Linked DNA regions of Homo sapiens. The protein of the gene in region 1 interacts with the protein of each later gene in a biochemical or structural test. Each region holds a gene or a part of one and is shown on either strand. Other genes may lie near its edges. The genes, in order: BRSK2, PIMREG and WEE1.

Region 1 (7,104 bases):
GTCCCGCAACCAGTGGGAGTCCCAGGAAGCCCCAGCAGGAGGGCACAGCCCCAGCCCCGCCCTTGCACCTCCCTCTCAGTGGCAGCTCCCAGACCCCCCACCTCCCACTCAGCTCCACCCTGGACCCCCACCTCAGGCTGCAGGGGTCACCTTCCACCTCCATCTTTGCCCTTAAGGCTCCTCTGTAAGGTCCTGGTCATCCTGTGCTGTGGCTGCCTGAGAAAAGCCCGGCAGGGGCTTAGCTGTGCCCGCTAAGTGGACCAAAGCTTTGGAGGGTGGGGGCTGGAAACGCCCCTCCCCCTGCTCCAGCCGTCTCCAACCGCACTGTGCCCCTCACGGAAGCAGAGGTGCCTGGGTGCTCACAATGTGTGCACGGTGGGGCTGGCTCGCCCCAGGGCTGCCTCCCCAGAGGGCCAGGGTGGGACCTGCCAGGCCAGCCACGCTCACGCTGCTCTCTCTCCACAGATTCCCAGTCTCAGCCACAGCGTCATCTCCCAAACGAGCTTCCGGGCCGAGTACAAGGCCACGGGGGGGCCAGCCGTGTTCCAGAAGCCGGTCAAGTTCCAGGTTGATATCACCTACACGGAGGGTGGGGAGGCGCAGAAGGAGAACGGCATCTACTCCGTCACCTTCACCCTGCTCTCAGGTGAGCTGGCGCCCCCAGGGCGGCTCCGGGCCCAGGCCCGTCCAGGGCATAACCCCCTGTCTCCCCTAGGCCCCAGCCGTCGCTTCAAGAGGGTGGTGGAGACCATCCAGGCCCAGCTGCTGAGCACACACGACCCGCCTGCGGCCCAGCACTTGTCAGGTGAGGCGGGCTCAGCTCCGGCCAACCTGCGGCCTGCGAGTGGGGCGTGGCCAGCTGGTGCTGCGCGGACGGGAGGCGTGAGGACCCGGGCGCAGCCTCCTGGCCCCTCTTGACGGACGCCCCCACCTCCCTGCCCCGAGCTGTGGCTGCACCCCTCAGGGAGCAGAGCCCCTCCCTGGCCTGGCGGGACCACCCGCCTCGCCTCTGCACGCCAGGGACATAGGGCGCAGCCGCACCACACTGAAAGGCGCCTCTTGTCCACCGTAGAACCCCCCCCACCAGCGCCAGGACTAAGCTGGGGTGCTGGGCTTAAGGGCCAGAAGGTGGCCACCAGCTACGAGAGTAGCCTCTGACGCTGGCAGGTAAGGCGCCCGGCCTGTGCTGGGGCGGGGAGGGGCTGCGGGCAGGTCCTCGGCGGAGCCAGGCTGGCCCTGAGCAGGGCCCTCCATGCCCACCCACAGGTCTCGGCCCTGGACAGGCCAAGCATGCCCCGGGCGGCCCATCTGCTAGGGCAGCCTGCACAGGACCTGGGAGAGCAGTGACAAGGCCCTGCCCTCGGGACTCCCCGCCATGGCACCCTAGGAGGGCCGCGGGCTGCCTGACGGGCTGTGACTTCTCATCTCTCCATACTTCCTGACAGCCCAGGGTCATGCCTCCAGCAGGGCAGAGGGGCTTGAGCCCAGCCAGAGCGGGGGCTTCACCACAGCCTGATGGGCTCACACAGGGGAGGGTTGCCCCAGCCTGGAACCACCAGGGTCTAGGACCCGAGGGTCCGTGCCACTCGGCATACGGCAGGGAGGGCTCCCCCCACTCCCCTGGGCCCATGTGTGGTGGGGGCAGGGCGGAGCACTGGGCACATGCATGGGCCTGGTCTGTCAGCAAGGGGGTGTGGGTGTGCCTCTGAACGCTGGTACGGCGTGGGGGCGCTGGGCGTCGTGGGGGAGCACCCGGCTGGACCCTGGGGGTCCCCTCTCCCAGCCTGCATCTCAGCAGCTCCGTGGCATGCTAGGGTCACCTCCTGTGTTTCCATGTGGGGTCCTGGAAGCCAAAGAGGGCCCCACTGCCCCTCCCCATGACATCCTCATTCCATCATCATGCCATCACCTGTGGGAGCCCCCCCAGAGTGTGCTTCACCTTGCTGCGGGCTGGGGGCTGAGGTCCCCAACAGCCCTGGCCCTAACCGAAGCCCCAGTGGGTGGAGGAGTAGCCCCCTTCTCCTGATTTTGGGAGCCAGGCTGGCACAGCGGGTAAGGAGGAGCAGGGTTCCAGGTGCTCGGCCCCGCAGGTACACGTGGCGCTTCCCTACAGCGGAGGCCATGCCGTCGGCCGGCAGCAGCCTCTGGCTCTCTGAGCCTTGAAAGCCTTCATCTTAGGAAGGGAAACCGAGGCCAGGGAACGACAGGGCAGCCACCTAGGCCAGGGATGGACAGGGCTTGTCTGGTAGGGCAAGCAGAAACGGGCCCCGGGGTACTGCCCAGGGTGTCCCCGCACCTGAGCAGCCATCTGGGTGCCTCAGTCGAGCGCTCCTGCGTGGGCTGTAGGCAAAGCTCCCCCAGCCTGGCCCCTTAAAGTGTGGTACCGCCTGTCAGCACGCAGCACTCCCCTGGAGCCAACTCCAAGCCCCTCTCCATTCCTGCCCCGGACCCTGACCTCAGTGGAGCCCACTGCAGAGGCTCTTGGGGGTCTATTCTGGGCCCCATCTATCTCCCTGTGGACTTGGGGAGCCCAGCCTATCCCCGTGATCTCGCTACGCCCAGCCCTTCCCAGCCCTGCCCCCCTCCCACACTGGATGCTTTTGTCCAGTGAGCCCAGCTCCAAGGATGTGTGGAAGGTGGCTAGCCAGCAGGGGGCCTCCTCAGACACTGCCCACCCCCCCAGAGACTGCGGCCGAGGGAGGGGAGGCTGAGAGCCCCCAGTGAGCAGGCACAGGCAGACCAGGGCGTGTGTCCACCCTGTGCAGGCGCCAGTGAGGGCCTTGAGGGAGTAGCCCCTCCCAGGGCCTTGCTCCCACCCCAGTCCTGGACTGGCAGCACCAACATCCCCAGGCCCAGCAGTAGGGAAGAGGGCCGAGGAAGAGGGTGCCTGCCTTGAGTTGAAGGGCAGCCGGAAGCCACAGGGCCCTGGAGCTGCTGAGTGGCACAGTGAGGATGCAGGCCACGGCCAGGGCAGAGTTGTCAGCCCAGGGGAGGGGCTAGGCCCACCCAGGGCACCGGCCATATCCAGGCTCAGGCTCAGGCTGCTGGAGGTCCGGCTGCTGCCCAGGTGGCTCCGCCTTGTTCCCTGCCTCCGCAGCCCCGCCTCACTCCAGGCCCTGCCCCTGCACTGCCCCTTATAAGCCCCGCCCCCTCTGGCTCTGGCCCCCCCAGTATTCCCCACCCATGCCTCTGGGGCCCTACCCACTCCTGGCTCCACCCCCTCCCCATCGAGGCTGTGGGCGTCCAGCCAGAAGGCCCAGGACAGCCTTTCACTCACTCCCTCCCTCCTCTCTCCATTCTGTACTCCAGACACCACTAACTGTATGGAAATGATGACGGGGCGGCTTTCCAAATGTGGTAAGAATCCCCCACGCTCACCTGGCACCTCCACCTGCCACTTCACCGCTCACCCTCAGCCCGCTGTGGCCGCCACCTGCCGCCCGGGTTGTCCCGGCCTCCCTGTGTAGATGTAGGCACCCAGCAGCCCAGATGTCCCCGGCCCCATCCTCTACCAGGAGCAGCCCAGGTCGCTCCCCTACCACAGCAAGCCCAGGCGGGGTTCCTGGCCAGACTCACCTCTGCCAGGCCCTAGGATCAGGGCAGGCCCAAGAAGGGGCTCCCAAGGCCTGAAGCCAGTGAGGGTCCCGCTGGTCCCACTGGTGCAGGCTGTGGCCTAGGGGAGGGGCCGGTGCCCATCCCTCTGTCCACTGGAGGCTGTGCCTGGCAGGGAGCGGAGGGGCCCACAGCTCAGGGCTCAGGTGGGGGTTAGGCTTAGGAAGTGGGATTGAGGGGCCTCCATCGACACACCTGGGCAGTGAGCACAGGGCCCCAAGAAGGGTGGGCTCCCCATTTCCGCCCCTCTTCTCAGGACTGCCCCCATCCCAGGGACCCGGGACATGACTCTAGCTGCTTGCCCCCAGCCCCCCAGCCTGCCTCCCACATCCACCCCTCCATGCTTGTCCACCCATCTGTTCATCTGTCTGTCTGCTGCTAAACTGTGTCCAAGCTGGCCAGGGGTCGGGCTTCAGGCCTCTCTGGGGAGGTGTGGTGGGCACACCCTCTCCCTGTCATCCACTGGGCCTCATGCAGTGGGGCCAGCAGCTGCCCCCAGGGTCCTGCGAGGCTTCAGAGCTCCCAGCAGGCCCTTGTCTTTACGCTGTCATCTCCGGCGTTGGGGTGGGTCGGCCCTCACGGCTGCAAGGTGGGGAGGGAAGGGGGGTGGGGCAGGGCCTTCCGGGCCAGGCCTTGGTGGGGAGGGAGGGGTCTCACCACCTGCCCCGAGCCTCGCTTCGCCAAAGGAGCACTGGGTCCTGCGCAACAGCTCGGAGGCGCTGGGGTCCTAAGTTCCTGGCCCCACGGCGCACAGCTTCCCCACCGCACAGCCCCCAGCGTACAGGGCCCCTGCCGGCCGCCGCCTGCCCACCCTGCTTGCCGCCCACCGGTCCCCGCTCGGCCCCATCTCAGCCTCATCTCTGGGTTCTTTCCCTCGTCGAGGCCTCTTCGTTCATTTGTTTGTTTGTTCTCTTTCTCTCTCCTTCCCTCCCCTCCTCTTTCTCTCCCCCTTTTTTTTCTTTTTTCCTTTTTTTTTTTTTTTTTGTCTCTGTTCTGTGTACCCAGGCAGCCCATTGAGTAACTTCTTTGACGTAATTAAACAACTTTTTTCAGACGAGAAGAACGGGCAGGCGGCCCAGGCCCCCAGCACGCCCGCCAAGCGGAGTGCCCACGGCCCACTCGGTGACTCCGCGGCCGCTGGCCCTGGCCCCGGAGGGGACGCCGAGTACCCAACGGGCAAGGACACGGCCAAGATGGGCCCGCCCACCGCCCGCCGCGAGCAGCCTTAGACACACTAGCCCCCCCCCCCAGCACAGCACTGACAGCGGCTGCCTCGCCGCCCGCCGCCCGCCCTGCCCCGAGTGGACCCGCGGCCGCGCCGCCCGTCCGTCCAGACTGTTCTCAGAGCCTGGGAGGAAAGGAAAGGGGCGTTGGGGCCGGCCTGTGGGCTGCGCCACCCGCGCCCGCTCTCTTTTCTCTCTGTCTCTGCCTCTGCCTGTCTCTGACAGCATCGCTTGTTTCCACTCTGATACCAGGAATTATCCCGAAAAGTTAACATGTCACCTCCACGAGGCCATCCTCTGTGACCGAAGGCAGCTGCTGCGGACCCGCCCTCCCTCCGCTCCTGCTGTTGCTGCCGGGCAGTGAGGCCCAGCCCAGCGCCCCGTCCACCCCGCGGCAGCTCCTCGCCTCAGCTCCGCACGGCCCGTGGGAGGAAGGCCAGGCTCGGGGGAGCCTCCTCCAGCCCGGCCGACCCGGACTCCCGGTCACCTGACCCCTCAGCAAGAACAGCCTGCCTGGTGGCCTTCTGGGGCCAGGACCCCTGGTGGGCAACGTAGCCACAGGAACAGGCCCCGTCCACCGCCTCCACGCCGCACCTGGAGGCCTCCTCGCAGGCCCGTGCCCCGCCTCCCTGGCTGCGCCGCCTCCGTGTAGTCTTGGCCTCCTCAGGCTGCCTCCCGTCCTCTCGTCTCACCCGCGCCTCCCTTGCCTCATCTGGGGCGGCTGTGGGCTCTGGCGCTCCTCTCTGGCTGAGGTGGAAACAGAGACACCCTGCGGCACCAGAGCCTTCCCAGCAGGCCAGGCCGCTGGGCTGGGATCAGTGTTATTTATTTGCCGTTTTAATTTATGGATTCTCCGCACCTCTGTTCAGGGAAGGGCGGCGGCCACATCCCCTGCCGTCTGCGTGTCTCAGGCAGTGGGGGGGCTGGGGCCAGGGCGCCCTCTGAGGACAGAGCTGGTGGGGCGCGGGGGGGCTGGCGAGCTACTGTAAACTTTAAAGAATTCCTGCAAGATATTTTTATAAACTTTTTTTTCTTGGTGGTTTTTGGAAAAGGGTGTGGGGGTGGGGGCGCCGCTGGGGCAGGGCCAGGTTTTGTGTTTTAGTCCCTTGCTCCTGCTTCTTTCTACACACACATCTAAAGACGGTGCGGCTCGCTCTGTCATGGGTTCCGTCTCTCTGTGGAGAAGCAGCTCCACCTCTGGGGGGGCTCGGGGCAGAGGGGCGGTGTCTTGTAGCGGGCGGCAGCGCCAGCGCCCCTCTGTCAGGCTGGGGCAATCTTGGTTTTGTGTCCAAAGGTGAAGGGGTAGGAGGAGGGCCCTCAGCTGGCCCTCCCCACACACAGGACGGCAGGGGCACTGTGAGGCTTTTCTTATTAAAATGAAAAAATTGAAAAAAAAGGACAAAGAGTCGGTGGCGCTCCTCTGCAGGGCGTTCTGTGCAGAGCGAGGCCCAGGGCGCAGCCCTCAGAGGGCTGCAGGCCCACCCTGCCCAGTGCCCGCCGCCGTGCTTCACCCCAGCTCCAGCTTCTGTGTTCCCTTCCGCCCATGTGCCCAGCCCTCCCAGGCGGGCACAGCCCGGGTGCGGCGGCCGTGGGGGACGGCGGGTCTGATGCATGCCTCTGCCATGGAGTCGTCTGTCTGCTTCGGTGCCTGCCCCTGCCTCCCACCCACCTCGTGTATAGATTTTAACGCTTCTGTTAACATTAGACCTCTGCCACAGGCTGGGATTTCTATACATAAGAACAAAAGCAAACACCTAGGACAGCAAACGCCAGGCGGTACAGGCGGGAAGGGGCTCTCCACGGAGATCGAGGACACGAAGCAAACTGCCTCTTGCTTGCCTTCCCCTTTTGTGCTTCGGACACACGCGGACTCCAGCAGGCGCCACGGAAATGGGCAAGCCCCTGCAGTGTACCCCTGTCATAACTGTGAGCAGCTGCAGCTCCGGAACAATAAATCCCTTCCGCAAAGACAGCGACGCAGGTCTTCATCTGGGCAGGGCGGGCGCGCAGGGCTCTGTGACAGCCCGGGACAGCTTCTTGTTCCCCACTTGCAGCCCCTGGGCTGCGCCAGTGTGAATGCAGCTACCCTCTGCCCAGCTGAAGAGGGTGAGATTCCGGGCGGCCAAGGTCAGAGGTCACTTCCGATGTGTGGGGCCATCCCCCGAGGCTGCCCCAGCCTGAGGCGGGCTCCCGTTGAGGGCCAGGGCCTGGGCGGAGCTCTCTTTGCACGGCACCTCTGCCACCCCACAAGGCCTGCACGGCCACCCAG
Region 2 (7,772 bases), on another chromosome or scaffold:
AGACTCCCAACCACTGGCCCACTAGCTCCTCACTTCAAACACCACACATTCAGGGAAGACTACCCTGACCTCCAGCTCCTGTCAATCTCCCCATGCCCCTTATACCCTGTCACTTCTCCCTAGCACTGCACATTCATGCTATTTTGCCCCATTGTAATTGTTTACAATGATGTGTTTAATGTCTATGTCTTCCATCAGATTGACAGTTTCAGGAGGTCAAGGAAACTAGTGGAATGTTTGCTCTTGGACAAAGAGCCCCTGGAGAGCAGGGCTGGAGCTCCTCGTTTGTCCCCCTCCCCAACGGAGGCAAGGGTGATGCTGGATTCCCTCCCCCTCCAAAAGCCTCTGCTAGGAAAAAGTGACTGGTTTTTCCTCCTTACCAAGAACAGAAGCCAATGTACCGACCTCTGGACTAGGAGCCTCCTTCCCCTGAGTACAGCCTCCTTCCCTCCCTCCAGCCACCACTCCACGCAAGGCAAAAGGGAAAGGCTTCCCATTCATAAGAAAATGTTTCTTCCCCCTTTACTTGTTGCCATGGAGACTGTTCTTCATTAACCTGGCCTGCCAGTTACCATTCTGAGTGAGGGAAGATGGTGGAAAGCTCCAAGCAGGGAGGGCCTCTTTATGCATGCATGCATTCATTGTTTCACCCCTGATCTTAACAAAGTTGTGTAATCTAAGGGTAAGAATTCAGGCTTTGAAGTCAGTCACTGGATTTAAGCTCCAGTTCTGACATCCCATACAATCTTGGACCAGATATTTCACCTGTCTGCATCTCACTTTTGTCATCTGTAATGGAAATAAAAAACGTACCTACTTCATAGAATTGCTTGAGGATTAAAAAAGAATAAAGAAAGTAAATGCCCTTAGCAGAGAGTCTGACACATGGTGAGGGCTCAAAAAATATAAGCTATTATTACGGATGCCTGTGACATGACAGGCACTGGGGAGGCTATTGTGATAAGACACTCCGGTTTGAGAGACTTGGCTTGTTTCTAAATGTTTCACCTTCATGGAGTCTTTCCCACACTTTCATCTTAGTTTTCATAGAAACAACAACTTTTTCTTTTCCCCCTTGGATTTCACTGGTAAAAGACATCAGTTAAATTCCTTAATTACAGTAACAAATGCAACTGTTGTAAACAGGTTTGAAAACAAGCATTTCTGACTCTTGATAAACAACTTCACTGTGAACAAAATGGACAGGCAAACTAGAGCAATATTTTGCAAACCACAACTCATACTCCATTAGTGACTCGTAGAATGAATATAGTGGGTTGTAACCATCAAGGTTTTTTTAAATGAAATAAAAAATAAAATCTCAGGTCATATCACACATAGTCAAGTATTGTTTCATGAAACTTTTGTTTCAGTTCACGTGTGTGTGTGCTGGGTCTCTTACAGTGAATGCTGGTTCCTTAAGCGTGGTGTTCCCTGAGCCAAGAAGATCACACACACACACACACACACACACACACACACACACACACACACACACATTCGTTGCCTGGTTAACTCATTCTCTAGGTCTCAGCTTTCAATAACATAAGTTTTGCATAGTTCTTTGATTAACTGATTATTGGTTATTTGATCCTTTCATGTCTATGTCTCCCCACACACTAGATTTGAGCTCCATGACAGTAAGGAATGTATCTGTTTTGTTGACCTTTGTGGCCCATTTTTTAGCACAGTGCTTAATGGATCACAGGCAAGAGGGAATATGGGGGAGGAGGAGGATTGAGGAGACCAGGGTGACTTCAGCTAGGGTGTGTTTATCTAAGATGCCTGCAGCATTCAAGAGGAGATGAGACCCAGGAGGTAGTTGGCTATACATGTCAGATGAGAGGCTCAAGCTGGGGGTGGAGGTGTTAGGGGCTGAGGAAGGCAGTGTGGTGTGGTGGTTAGGCACAGGGACCCTAGCCCTAGACTGATGAAGTTTGAACCCTTGGCCCTGGTGTAGACTAACTGAGTGAAATTTGGGCCCTACCAAATTCTGTATTCTCAGCTTCCTCATCAAGTGTAGGTACAATGAAGATGTCAGTCCGTTTTCTGTTGTTATATCTGAATACCACAGACTGCATAATTTATAAAGAAAAGACACTTAGCTCATGGTCTGGAGGATGGGAAGTTCAAGAGCATAGCACTGGCATCTGGTTGGCATCTGGTAAGGGCCTTCTTGCTGTGTTGTAACATGGCAGAAGGCATCGCATGGTGAGAGGGCAAAAGCGTGCCTGTCAGCTCGGGTCTCTCTTCCCCTTCTTTTAAAGCCACCAGTACCATCATGGGGGCCCCATCTGTTTGATCTTATCTAATGCTAATTACCTCCCAAAGGCCTCACCTCATCAACATACTGGACGTTGGGAATGGTAGGTGCAAGGAAGGAATAGGAGAGATTTGTTAAAAGACACAAAGTTACAGCTAAATAGGAGTAATAAGCTTAGTATTCTATAGCACTGTGGAATGACTAGAGTGAACAATAATATATAGTTTCGAATAACTAGAAGGAAGATATTGACTCTTACCAACACAGAAAAACGATAATGTTTGAGATGATGAATATGCCAATTACCCAGATCTGATCACTCTACATTATATGTATCAAAACATCACTATGTGCCCCATAAATGTTTAATTATTACTTGTCAATTTTAAAAAAAATTTTAAAGAAAATTACAAAGTAGCTCATACTTAGAAAATAATATATGTACAGGTATGTGTATACACACGCATTTATAAAGTGATACGTATAAAATTACTTACATATATGGTTTAAAGAATAATAAAGACTAGGCAAGGTGGCTCACGCTTGTAATCCCAGCACTCTGGGAGGTCAAGGCAGGAGGACTGCTTGAGCCCAGGAGGTTGAGACTGCAGTGAGCTATGATTGTACCACTGCACCTCAGCCTGGACAACAGAGCAAGATCCTGTCTAAAAGAAAAAAAATAAAAAAGAAGAAAGTAAACATCCATGTGGCCACCACCCAGCCTACAAAATGGAACATTATCTTTGAAGTCCTTTGAGCCCTTTCCTCATTACATCCTCTTCTCCTGCCACCCTTCCAAAAACGACGACTTATTTTATTTTGGTGTTTCAATTCCTTTGCTTTCCATAATAGCTTTGTCCACAAATGTATGTGCATATTCCTAAACCATATTGTTGAGCTTTTTTGCGTTTGAATTTATACAGTGTCATACTTTATGTTTGTCTGCATATTGCTTTTTTTTAATCTAACATATTTCTGAGATTGACTTAAGTTACACCATCTGGCTACAATTTGCTTATTTTTCAGTGCTGTATAATATTCTATAATTTGAATAAATAACAATTTATATGTCTTAAAAAATGCCACCGATAGCCAGGAACGGTGGCTCACGTCTGTAATCCCAGCAGTTTGGGAGGCTGAGGCGGGTGGATTGCCTAAGGTCAGGAGTTCGAGACCAGCCTGGCCAACATAGTGAAACCCCATCTCTACTAAAAATACAAAAAATTAGCTAGGCGTGGTGGCAGGCACCTGTAATCCCAGCTACTAGGGAGGCTGAGGCAGGAGAATCGCTTGAACCTGGGAGGCGGAGGTTGCAGTGAGCCGAGATCATGCCATTGCACTCCAGCCTGGGCAACAAGAGTGAAATTCCGTCTCAAAAACAAACAAAAAATGCCACCGATATATGAATTTGGGCATTACATTTCCAACATGTGAAATTTGAGGGACACATTCAAACCATAGCAGAGGATCAAGTAAGTTAATAAACTGCAACACCGGTACCTGTGCATACTAAGTGCCATATACACGTTAATCATTATCATCATCCTTTCCTTGGAAATCACTGAGGCCAAAGGAGTGGGTGAGACCACCCAGAAACGGAGAGGGCTGAAGACAGAGTCTCAAGAAGCCATCATCTCAGGCTCTTGTGCGGAGAAGTAACAAAGAAACCAGCCGGGGGAGTGGGCAGCACTGCTCTGAGGTCACCGAAAGGAGAAAGATGAGCTGGAGAGAGCTTTATAATGGCTGCATTTGTTTGGATGCTAAGGAGAAGAGAGGCAGGCATTCCGCTGGAGAGAGGGAGGGATGCGTGGGGCAAGGCGGGGGCGGGGAGCCGGTGTAGACGGGTGGAGGGCAGACCGGTACTCTGGTCTATCCCCGCTTCCGGGACGCGTTTTCTAGGGAGGGCGGAGCGTGGATGGCGAGTATGGGGAACTCAGAGAGGGACAGTGTCTTGTCACAGGAAGGGAGGGTCAGGAGGGAAATTTGAAAGAAAACGTCTCTGGGAACCCAGGGCTCTGCACTGCCAGTCCCTGGCTCCTTCTGACAAAACCACTGAGCAAGAAGGAAAAGCCAGACCCCTTGGCAGGATGAGAGGGGTCTCTGCCCGCTGCCGGGCCTGGGGCCTGGGGCCTGAGCCAGGAGGCCTAGGTCCCAGGACCTCCGCCTCCACCCCATGGGTCAGAGCAGCCTGAACCCTGTGCGCGCTCCAGGGAGGGGACCCGGTGTGCGATGCGCGGGGGCTGGGCTAGCAAGGGCAGTGGCGCGAGCGGGACGCAGGATACAAAGCCCGGAGCCACGAGGCTGGCGGCGGGGCGGGGGCCGGAGCGATGAATGGGCACGGCCGGGCCAATCCAAGCGCAGCATTTGCAGCCGCGAGAGAGGGAGCCAATCGGATCCCCGGGGCGGTGGCGGTGGCGGGGGCGGGGACGGAACCAATCAGCTGTGAGGACGGGGCCGGGGGCGGAGCCGCGCAGAGTTTCAAATCGGCTGCGGTGGGCGAGGAGCAGCTGTGCTGCGGCTGTGCTCGGCCTTAGTGGTGTCGGGTGAGTGCGGGCTGGGCACAAGTTTCGCCCTTGTTGCCCAGGCTGGAGTGCAATGGCGCGATCTGGACTCAAAACAATTTTTTTGTTCGGAGGGGAGGGCATCAGGTTCTGTTCACAGGGGAGGGCATCAGGTTCGGACACGCACGGCCTGTGGGGTCGTCTGGGTACCACAAGAAGTCGGATCGAAATCGGGGCGTCTGGTGGGAAGGCCGGGGTCTGGGCGGGTGCGCGTTTGGTCTGGGCGAGCTGGTGAAGAAGATGGTGATCGTGTCCTGGGCCCAGCGCTGAAGCTCGGCTACGGCGTGTCTTGACCCTGCCTCCCCTCCTCGCCTGAGCCAGAGAGAGGAAGGAGGTTGGGATGAAAAGACAGCTGTTTTGGAAACTTGAAGGGCGGGACATCAGAAATGCTGCTGACCCGAGGCCCCTCTTCCAGGAAGCATCCTCCTTCCTGCACCCACACTTACCAACTCGCCCGCCCCCGCCACCCCGCTGCATCCCGTCTCTTCCCCTGTGTCCAGGGTCTCTGTGGGGCCTGGGAATGGGTATGGGGAATGCCTTGCTGATCTGCCTTTCGCCCTCCTCCCCAGGGTCTAGTGGACAGAGAAGACTCTTGGCCAGGCAGATGGCTTCTCGGTGGCAGAACATGGGGACCTCCGTGCGCCGGAGATCTCTCCAGCACCAGGAGCAGCTGGAGGACAGCAAGGAGCTGCAGCCTGTGGTCAGCCATCAGGAGACCTCTGTAGGGGCCCTGGGGTCCCTGTGCAGACAGTTCCAAAGGAGGCTGCCCCTGAGAGCCGTCAACCTCAACCTCCGCGCAGGGCCCTCCTGGAAACGCCTGGAAACCCCAGAGCCAGGTCAGCAGGGCCTCCAGGCTGCAGCTCGCTCAGCTAAGAGTGCTTTGGGTGCCGTGTCCCAGGTAATACTGACAACACTAATCATCTTTTTTATGGAGTGTTTCCTTGGTGCCAGGCAGTTCCTGCCCTCAAAGAGCCTCAAGAATATAGACTTCATGAAAACAGGGACGTTGGTTAGTTCACTGCTGTTTCCCCACCACCCCAGATAGTTCCTGGCACATATAGGTGCTCAACAAATAGTTGAATGAGTGAATGAAAGCATGTCTTGGAGGAAACAGATGCTCACAATACCAGGTGATAAGAGCTGTACGTGATAGGAAATTGCAAAGCAAGTGACCAATAGTGAGGCTCACCAAATGCAAGCTTAGTCGGTGAAGGCTTCCCAGAGGAGGTGATTCCAGAGTTCACCCAGGGAAGCAAAGGTCAAGGGGTATTTAGGGTAGGGGAAATAGTGCAAGTCCAGGCCTAGAGCTGAGGGAAAGCAAGGTGTACTGCCCACTCAGCTGTGTATCCCTGAGGAGAGCCAGAATTGTAGTCTGGGTATGAACAGATGACAGAGAGCAAGGTAGAGCAGGGGGAAAGGATATGAAGGAGCTTAGAACTCTCCCAGGAATGATCAGGAGTCCGGAAGATTCTAAACAGTGGAAAGTCTGGTCTAATTAGCATATTAGAATTTGCCCTTTAGCTACATGATGGAGAAGGGAATAGAGGCAGAGATGCTCCTGATGGAGACTAAGGGTTTGGACTTGCAGGGGATAAACTTCAGGAGCTGCCGAGAAGGTCCAGTTAGAGGGGATTTGCTGTCAAATGAGAGCTGCTGTCAGGAAGACGTCCTTATATTGGATGTAAGTGTCTGTGGACCCTTCAAGGGATGCATCTTTAAACCCAGAGCTGGAGGTGTAGACGTGTCACTTAGAAAGGACAGAAGCCATTAGGATGAACAGACCTCCAGGGAGAGGATTGGGGGCTGCAGAGGCTTCTCCTCGGTGTCTCATTGGGAATTCTGAAGATGAAAGAATTCTCCAGAAAGTGGGTGGCTCTTTCTGGACCCTCTGCAGAGAGCTCTCTGAGCCAAATGTTAGTCCTTATTTGGAAGCACTTTTTGATTGTTTTCACCACCCTCAGGGATCAGAGAAATGAAATGAATTTGTCCAAGGTCACATAACTCATCAAATTTAACTTGGGCTTCGCTCCAAACACTGGGCTCTGGCTTGTCAAGGCAAAGACAGTCTAGCTGATGAAGAAGAGCCTTCACGGCTGTCACCCGGCTGGTGTGAAAGGCCCAAGAGTTGGGGCTTGGTCCTATGGGCAACAAGAAGCCACAGAAGAGTTTTGAGCAGTTGAGTGTCACGGTCAGAACTGCCCTTTAGAAGGATCACTATGGACCACTGTGGAGGGTGGATAGAGTGAGTGAGACCCGAGGCAAGAAGACAGGTGCTCTCTTGGTGTACAGGGGGTGCTGGGCGGGGTGGCCTGTTCTTTTGGGGCCCTCTCCTTCAGTCCTGGGGTCACCGTCTGTCTGGAAAGAGAGTTTGGACTTAGACAAACAGGCTCCAGGCACCAGGGGGGTCCTCCTGCGGCTGACTGCTGCTGTCATATCCAAGAGCTCTGAGCTGGGTCCCAGCCGTGGACTCATTCCATGAGGAGTCATTCACATCCTTCACCCTGGAGACTAACAATAGCCTGTATTTACAGGACACTTGCTGAGTGTAGGGGTTGCTTGTATGGTCTGGAGACCAAGGTAGCTCACCCTTGGTTTTTTTTTTTGTTGTTGTTTGTTTGTTTTCGAGACAGGGTCTCACTCTGTCGCCCAGGCTGGAGTGCCATGGTGCGATCTCGGCTCACTGCAACCTCCGCCTCCCGGGTTCAAGCGACTCTCATGCCTCAGCCACCCAAGTAGCTGGGATTACAGGCACCCGCCACCGCGCCTGGCTAATTTTTTTTTGCATTTTTAGTAGAAATGGGGTTACACCATGTTGGCCAGGCTGGTCTCAAAATCCTGACCTCAGGTGATCTGCCTGCCTCGGCCTCCCAAAGTACTGGGATTATAGGCGTGAGCCACCGCGCCCGGCCTAACTTTTGGTTTTGTCTGTGCTAACCTTTCCATTTGCC
Region 3 (6,920 bases), 8.1 Mb from region 1:
AACATCAGAAAACGATGCCATAGAAATAACATTATCACTTCAATTTGCACTCAATTCTTTTTTGTTTTTTGTAGAGATAGGGTCTCACTGTGTTGCCCAGGTTGGTCTCAAACTCCTGGCCCCAAGCAATCCTCCTGCCTTGGCCTCCCAAAGTGGTGGGGATTACAGGCGTGAGCCAAGACGCCTGGCCTCAAATCTTAAAACCCAGCCTAGTTTAGTGAGAATTAAAATCCTCCCCACTTTAAGGGCCAGGCGCCTGTAATCCCAGCACTTTGGGAGGCCAAGGCAGGCAGATCACCTGAGGTCAGGAGTTCGAGACCAGCCTGGCCAACTTAGTGAAACCCCGTCTCTACTAAAAATACAAAAAATTAGCTGGGTGTGGTGGTGCATGCCTGCAGTCCCAGCTACACAGGAGGCTGAGGCAGGAGAATCGCTTGATCCCAGGGGGCGGAGGTTGCATTGAGCCGAGATCGCGCCACTGTACTCCAGCCTGGGTAACAGAGCAAGACTCCATCTTAAAAACAAAAACAAAACCTCCCCACTTTAAAGTTTTCTGTGACTCAGTACAAATCAGAAAGTTATGAATCATATTATATTCACTTAATAATTTGAAGATATTTTAAATTACATCATGCTACATTTCTAGCAAGTCACATGCATAACATGCAATGTGATATTCATATTCAATCAAAATGTGCCCTCTGCTTTTATAATAGTACATTATACACACTATACATTTTATAGTATAGCAATAATAGAGATAAAATATTAGAAAACAGGCATCACAAGGATTTAGACAATTAAGGTAAGCTCAGAGTGACTTTTAATATGCCAATCAATGTTAATAAAACACAAGTCAAAGACAAGTGCAAACATGTTTTAGACCAAAATTAATGAGAAAACAAACAGACAATTTTTTTCAACATCTGTTAGCCAGTATTATTAGTCAAATGGCTAATCACAGATAAAATATATTTTGTGAAAAACTTGGAATGTCAGAAGTCATTCTGGCATTTCAAACAGCTATGTACAGTATCACGAAGATCGGTTTATATACACAAATATTGAAGAGAAAAACCGGGCAAAACATTTAAAAACAGACTAATAATACAATCAAGTATAAAACTTAGGGGGAGACATTTAAAAAGAGTCCGGGAAGGACATTACCAGAACAAGTTACAAAACCAGTAATTATTATACTACATTAATACAGCATTCCAAAGGAGGGAAAGGGTGCATTTTTCCAATGCACTAGCTTCAAAGTTCAAAGGAAAAAAAAAAAAAGGCAAATAGCTGCTTTTCATCAAAAGCAGCTATACATTTCACATAATTGTTTCAAAAAGAAGACCTATTAACAACAATGATTGTTTAATGCTACAAGTTTACAGCAAAGACAAAACTAAAATAGCAGCAAATTCACAAGGCAATACCTCCACAGAATCATCATCCCATGGTTCATGCAATGCCTACAAAGTGCTCCCAGTGGGATATACAAGTCTAATTCACAATTAAAAAAAAAAGAAATATAAGATGGACACACAGGTACATTGAAGGCTGAGTAGTAATGAGTCTTTTAGCATGTCCCTTTTCAAAGGGAGGGTATGTCTGTAATAAAGCCCTTGAGTACTTTTTACAGGTCACTACAGGGAAAGACACCTTTTATTACAATGCAACAGCAAACTATAAGCAGCACACCACCACAGTGGTTAACCCTGGAAAGGCTGGTGTAACATCCAACAGTGACACATCCTACAGAAGACAGACTGGTAAGATTAGATGAAAGCCTGACATAGCAATCATCAAAATACAGCTTTCAACTGTAATTCACAATAAAAGTCCTAATCAGTAAAACTACTGACACCAATCGAGAAAGTAATTGCAAACTGGATTCTATCAGTGATTTCAACCTAGCTTCCTCTTGTCACAGTGTTCAGGGGGAGGTGGGAAAGGAGTAGCTCAGTATATAGTAAGGCTGACAGAGCGGTTCATTTTCTTTCCAATAAGTCGAGATGTTCTATTACTCTGGGTGGTGGACCTAGTGGCCATCCGGTCAGTGAAGAGTGCTCTTTCCTCAGCTGCAGCTTTTGCCATCTGTGCTTTCTTGAGTTCTCTGACATAAAAATAGAAAACAAGGTATTATTCCTAGGAAGAGATTCTAAGAAACTAACACAAACTATATTGTCGATTGGGAGATATTTGCATGCCATCATTATTCTAAGATGTAATTGAAAAATAAAACAGGAAACTGAAGCTTCTATTAAAACAACTTAAATTTATGAAATTATTTTATTTTATGCTTTTTGAATTACAGTATCACACATACTTGAAAACAAGTAGTAAAGATGCTAGTAATGACTTTGGTTCTTATAAAATAATTTGAGCTGGATGTGGTGACTCACACCTGTAGTCTCAGCTACTCGGGAAGCTGAGGCTGGAGGATCGCTTGGGCCCAGGAGTTTGAGGCTGCAGTGAGCTATGATAGTGCCACTGCACTCCAGCCTGGGTGACAGAGCAAGACCCCATCTTTTTAAATAAATAATAATAAACAATTTCCAGACAAACCTATCCCCAATAAAAAAAAAATTAAAAATAAATAATAATTTCAAAAACTCCAATTTATATTGCGAATCTATCCTTACATAAGAGAGATGAAAGGAACACTTTATTTCCTATTTGTATGAACTATGATGGATATCAAACTAGTGGCAAGTAAACCTCTTAATATACAATTCTTATAATTTAAATATTAAATGTTAATATTAATTGTTAACATAACCTTTTCAAGTCAGTTTTATTAGGTTAAAAGCAAAATGGCTGCAATAAATCAAAAGAATTAGAAATGTGATCTGTGGTAACTTAATATTCTCCAATATTCTCTTTTTAATAACCTTTACCATTGCAACCAGCTTTTTGAAAATATCAAGTCATTAAGTCCAATATGAGAATCTTCATTCAGTATATAAAGATTTAGCCAGAAATTAAAAACATATATATGAGAATCATCTCCTAACCAAATTGACATTAATTTCATCCTTTCATAAAATAAGAACAGAATGTTTCAAGGACAACGTTAACTTTTGGTGAGAGTCTGGGAAGAAAAGATTGGTATAGGCTCGCTTAGCTTTTACTACCATTTATGGCTTGGGGACTATCACCACTTGCAAATATATGTTAGTCTCAACATTTTTAAAGTTCGTAATTTGAAAGTTTAGAAACAACACAAATTTAATAGGCCAAATACTAATTCATGGCAGAAGTCCCCAAGCTTTCACCGTATAACAACATATCGAACTACTGGAGCCGGGTGAGGTGGCTCACTCCTATAATCCCAGCACTTTGGGAGGCCAAGACAGGTGGATGGTTTGAGCCCAGGAGTTCAAGACCAGCCTGGGCAACATGGCAAAAACCCCATCTCTACAAAAAATATAAAAATTAGCTGGGTGTTGTGGCATGCATCTGTGGCTCAGCTACTCAGGAGGCTGACACGGGAGGATAGCTTGAGCCCAGGAGGTGGAGGTTGCAATGAGTCATGATAGCACCAGTGCACTCCAGCCTGATGACAGTGAGACCCTGTCTCAAAAAACAAAAAACACAAAAAACCACTACATCCTTTGTTGACAGAAAGCTTAAATCATCTCTCATTAAAATTTGAGAATTAAAGTGAATGAAAAAGCAAAAAGAAAACATAAAACCCTCACTTACTTTTGTAAAAGTGAATTTTTGAACTTTTCGGCATTCAATTCTATTCGTAATTGTTCTGCACTCTTTCTAGAAGCGGACAGCAATACTGAATGCTTTACCAGTGCCATTGCTGAAGGTCTTCTCTCTGGATCTGGATGAATCATAACCTTAAAAAGAAAAGTAAAATGAAGGTAAAGACATGCATTTAATAAAATATAGAACCATGTCAATAAAGGGCTTCATATATAAAATGCTCACTTTTAGCAACTCTGTAAATTCTTGGGAAAGCACTTGTGGTATCCGAGGTAATCTACCCTGTCTGATTTCATGCCATTGATCTCCATTTCTCGGAAGAGGTTCAGCACCAGCAGCACATACCACTGTGAGGGCAAGCGCAAAAATATCTGCTTTTGGTAGATGGGTATAATTCTGTAAAATTAAAACAATTTTTTAAAGGAATGTAAACATGGTCAAAATAAAACAAGATTACACCTCAAAGATGACTTAGGTGAAAAATAGGACTTAATCAAAGTGTCTAATACCACATTTAAGTTTGGGACCTATTCAGAGAATAAACTGCTAAATTTGAGGATGTTTATTTTTTAAATTACAAAGTAATACACACTCTTGGGGGAAAAATGCAAACACATAGATAAGAGTAAATGCCTCTTCTTTATCAACAGCCCAATTCAACTCTCAAAAGAAATCCCTCTACCTCTAGGCATTCATATGCAAACACAAAACACGTAGAAACACACTGACAAGTTACAAATACACATATACGTGATAAAGCAAACATATATATACACATATTTACAAAGAGCAATGGGATCAGACAATTACACTTTATATTTTTCTACTTATTCTATTTTCATTCAAAATTTTTATCAAGAAATACTGTCACACTCTTTTGAAACTATAGGCCATACTAATAACTATGTGCCATAATTTACTTAATCATTCTCTTATTAGTAAACACTTATTTACACTGTTCTCAACTTGTATTTGTATATGAATAGTTCTATAGGAAAAACTCCTAGAAGTGAAAATTATGAGTCAATGGGTACATGATTTTTAAATATTAATGCAATACTAATACTCTGATCTCCAAAAAGGATATGCCATTATAAAGTTCCACCAGTGGTGTATGAGAACATATTTTTTACGACAACTCCATTATAAATCTTTGCCTTCATGACTTTTTGCTTATTAAATGCCCTCAGATGACGGTTTAGATTTTATTTCCATTCTATTAGTTAACTTCAAAGTTTAATATATCTGAATTTATATTCTTCTATCAACTGCTAAGTGTTACAAAGCAAACTATGATTAAGGGAGAAGAAAAATTACCTCCTGTAAAACTTCATTTGCAAGAAAACGACTATCGCCCTCTTCAACTTGTGGACTGGAGATCCTTGTTACATGCCCAAGATCACCTAGAAGTATTGAAAAACTTACAGTGAAGAGCAAAAACAAAACAGCCTTCTCTTTATCTGAAGGTAATAATCTGATTACCTTTCTTACCTATTTTAAACATAACTTTGTTGGATGCCCAATCATCTTCGTCTCCTTCTTCAGAGGCAGCATTTGGGATTGAGGTTCGAGATATGAAAATATTACCTGTCAAACAGTTAATTATGTAAGCCAAACTAATAATAATAAAACCAGAGTTCATAAACAAGATCATATACCAGAATCATCCATAATGCTTTTTAAAATGCCGATTCTCAAGTTCTAGCCCAAACCCATGGAATAAGCATCTCAGGGGACAGAAACCAGGGTTATAGTTGCTGGGAATTTTTTTTGTTTTTTTTTGAGACAGTGTGCTCTGTCACCCAAGCTGGAGTGCAGTGGCATGATCTTGGCTCACTGCAACAAGGTTCAAGCAATTCTCATGCTTCATTCAACCTCCTGAGTAGCTGGGACTACAGGCACATGCCACATCTAGCTAACTTTTATATTTTTAGTAGAGACGGGGTTTCACTATGTTGGCCAGGCTGATCAAACTCCTGGCCTCAAGTGATCCTCCAGCTTCAGCCTCCCAAAGTGCTGGGATTACAGGCATGAGCCACCACTCTGGGCCTCTGGGAATATATTTTCCAGCCTAGCACTGATCCTAAACACTTTAAACTGGATGAGGCCCTTGTCTTCTAGCACATTACCCTTCAGCAAAAAAGGTAGTATCAGTAATTTGTGAAATTCTGTGAAAGCACAAGTTTTAATGTAGCGCTATAAGGCTGGTGTGAGCAGAATGAGTCATTTAGCCAGTGAGTCTGGCTGACCATATAGCATCTACCTTGCAATATGGCTTTGTGATTCACTATTTCCTATTGTATACACATTACCTTTTTTCTTCAAATTCAGGTAAGATCATAATTAACATGAGCTTTTAGTGGCAGATTCTATTTTAATAGTTTTATCAGTATAGTATTGGCCAGGTATGGTGGCTCAAGCCTGTAATCCCAGTGCTTTGAAAGGCTGAGGTAGGAGGATTACCTAAGACTTGGAATTCGAGACCAGCCTGGGCAAGATAGTGAGACCCTGTCTCTACAAAAAGAAAAAGAAAAAAATTAAAATAGCTGGGAATGGTGGTGCATGCCTGTAGTCCCAGCTACTTGTGAGTCTGAGGCAGGAGGTTCATTTGAGCCCAGGAATTCAAAGCTGCAGTGAGCTATAATTGCACCACTGCATTCTAGCCTGGGCAACAGAGTGAGACTATCTCTAAAAAATAAGGCCGGGAGTGGTGGCTCACACCTGTAATCCCAGCACTTTGGGAGGCCAAGGTGGGCGGATCACTTGAGGTCAGAAGTTCAAGACCAGCATGGCCAGCATGACAAAACCCCATCTCTACTAAAAATACAAAAATTAACTAGGCATGGTGGTGCACGCCTGTAATACCAGCCACTAGGGAGGCTGAGGCAGGAGAATCGCTTGAACCCAGGAGGCAGAGGTTGCAGTGAGCCGAGATCGCACTACTGCACTCCAGCCTGGGCAACAGAGCAAGACCCTGTCTCAAAAGAAAAAAAAAAGTATATATATATATATATATATATATATATATATATATATATATATGTGTGTGTGTGTGTGTGTGTGTGTGTGTGTGTGTGTGTGTGCGCGCGCGTGCACGCACACACACGCACAAATATTTAGTATTAAATTTATGTTACATTTACTGGAGTCATCTATACGTTTTACTTTCTTTATAGGACAACTTATTTTGTGATGGTATTTGTAAA

The links.
Region 2: of the proteins of BRSK2 (region 1) and PIMREG, one has a biochemical effect on the other in vitro, tested with the Homo sapiens proteins (one study listed by BioGRID).
Region 3: of the proteins of BRSK2 (region 1) and WEE1, one has a biochemical effect on the other in vitro, tested with the Homo sapiens proteins (one study listed by BioGRID).

The regions. Positions count from the first base shown.
Region 1 is NC_000011.10:1,455,883-1,462,986, forward strand, and holds the end of BRSK2 (serine/threonine-protein kinase BRSK2), read left to right. Parts: intron 1-465; coding exon 466-646; intron 647-715; coding exon 716-805; intron 806-1,072; coding exon of another isoform or gene 1,073-1,158; exon of another isoform or gene 1,159-1,167; intron 1,168-3,309; coding exon 3,310-3,357; intron 3,358-4,617; coding exon 4,618-4,841; 3' UTR 4,842-5,087; coding exon of another isoform or gene 5,088-5,107; 3' UTR 5,108-6,807; downstream 6,808-7,104. UniProt on the Homo sapiens protein: Serine/threonine-protein kinase that plays a key role in polarization of neurons and axonogenesis, cell cycle progress and insulin secretion. Phosphorylates CDK16, CDC25C, MAPT/TAU, PAK1 and WEE1.
Region 2 is NC_000017.11:6,439,683-6,447,454, forward strand, and holds the start of PIMREG (protein PIMREG), read left to right. Parts: upstream 1-4,772; 5' UTR 4,773-4,806; intron 4,807-5,393; 5' UTR 5,394-5,428; coding exon 5,429-5,722; intron 5,723-5,728; exon of another isoform or gene 5,729-6,349; coding exon of another isoform or gene 6,350-6,505; intron 6,506-7,772. UniProt on the Homo sapiens protein: During mitosis, may play a role in the control of metaphase-to-anaphase transition.
Region 3 is NC_000011.10:9,583,639-9,590,558, reverse strand, and holds the end of WEE1 (wee1-like protein kinase), read right to left. Parts: intron 5,302-6,920; coding exon 5,206-5,301; intron 5,118-5,205; coding exon 5,032-5,117; intron 4,111-5,031; coding exon 3,940-4,110; intron 3,849-3,939; coding exon 3,703-3,848; intron 2,111-3,702; coding exon 1,957-2,110; 3' UTR 574-1,956; downstream 1-573. UniProt on the Homo sapiens protein: Acts as a negative regulator of entry into mitosis (G2 to M transition) by protecting the nucleus from cytoplasmically activated cyclin B1-complexed CDK1 before the onset of mitosis by mediating phosphorylation of CDK1 on 'Tyr-15'.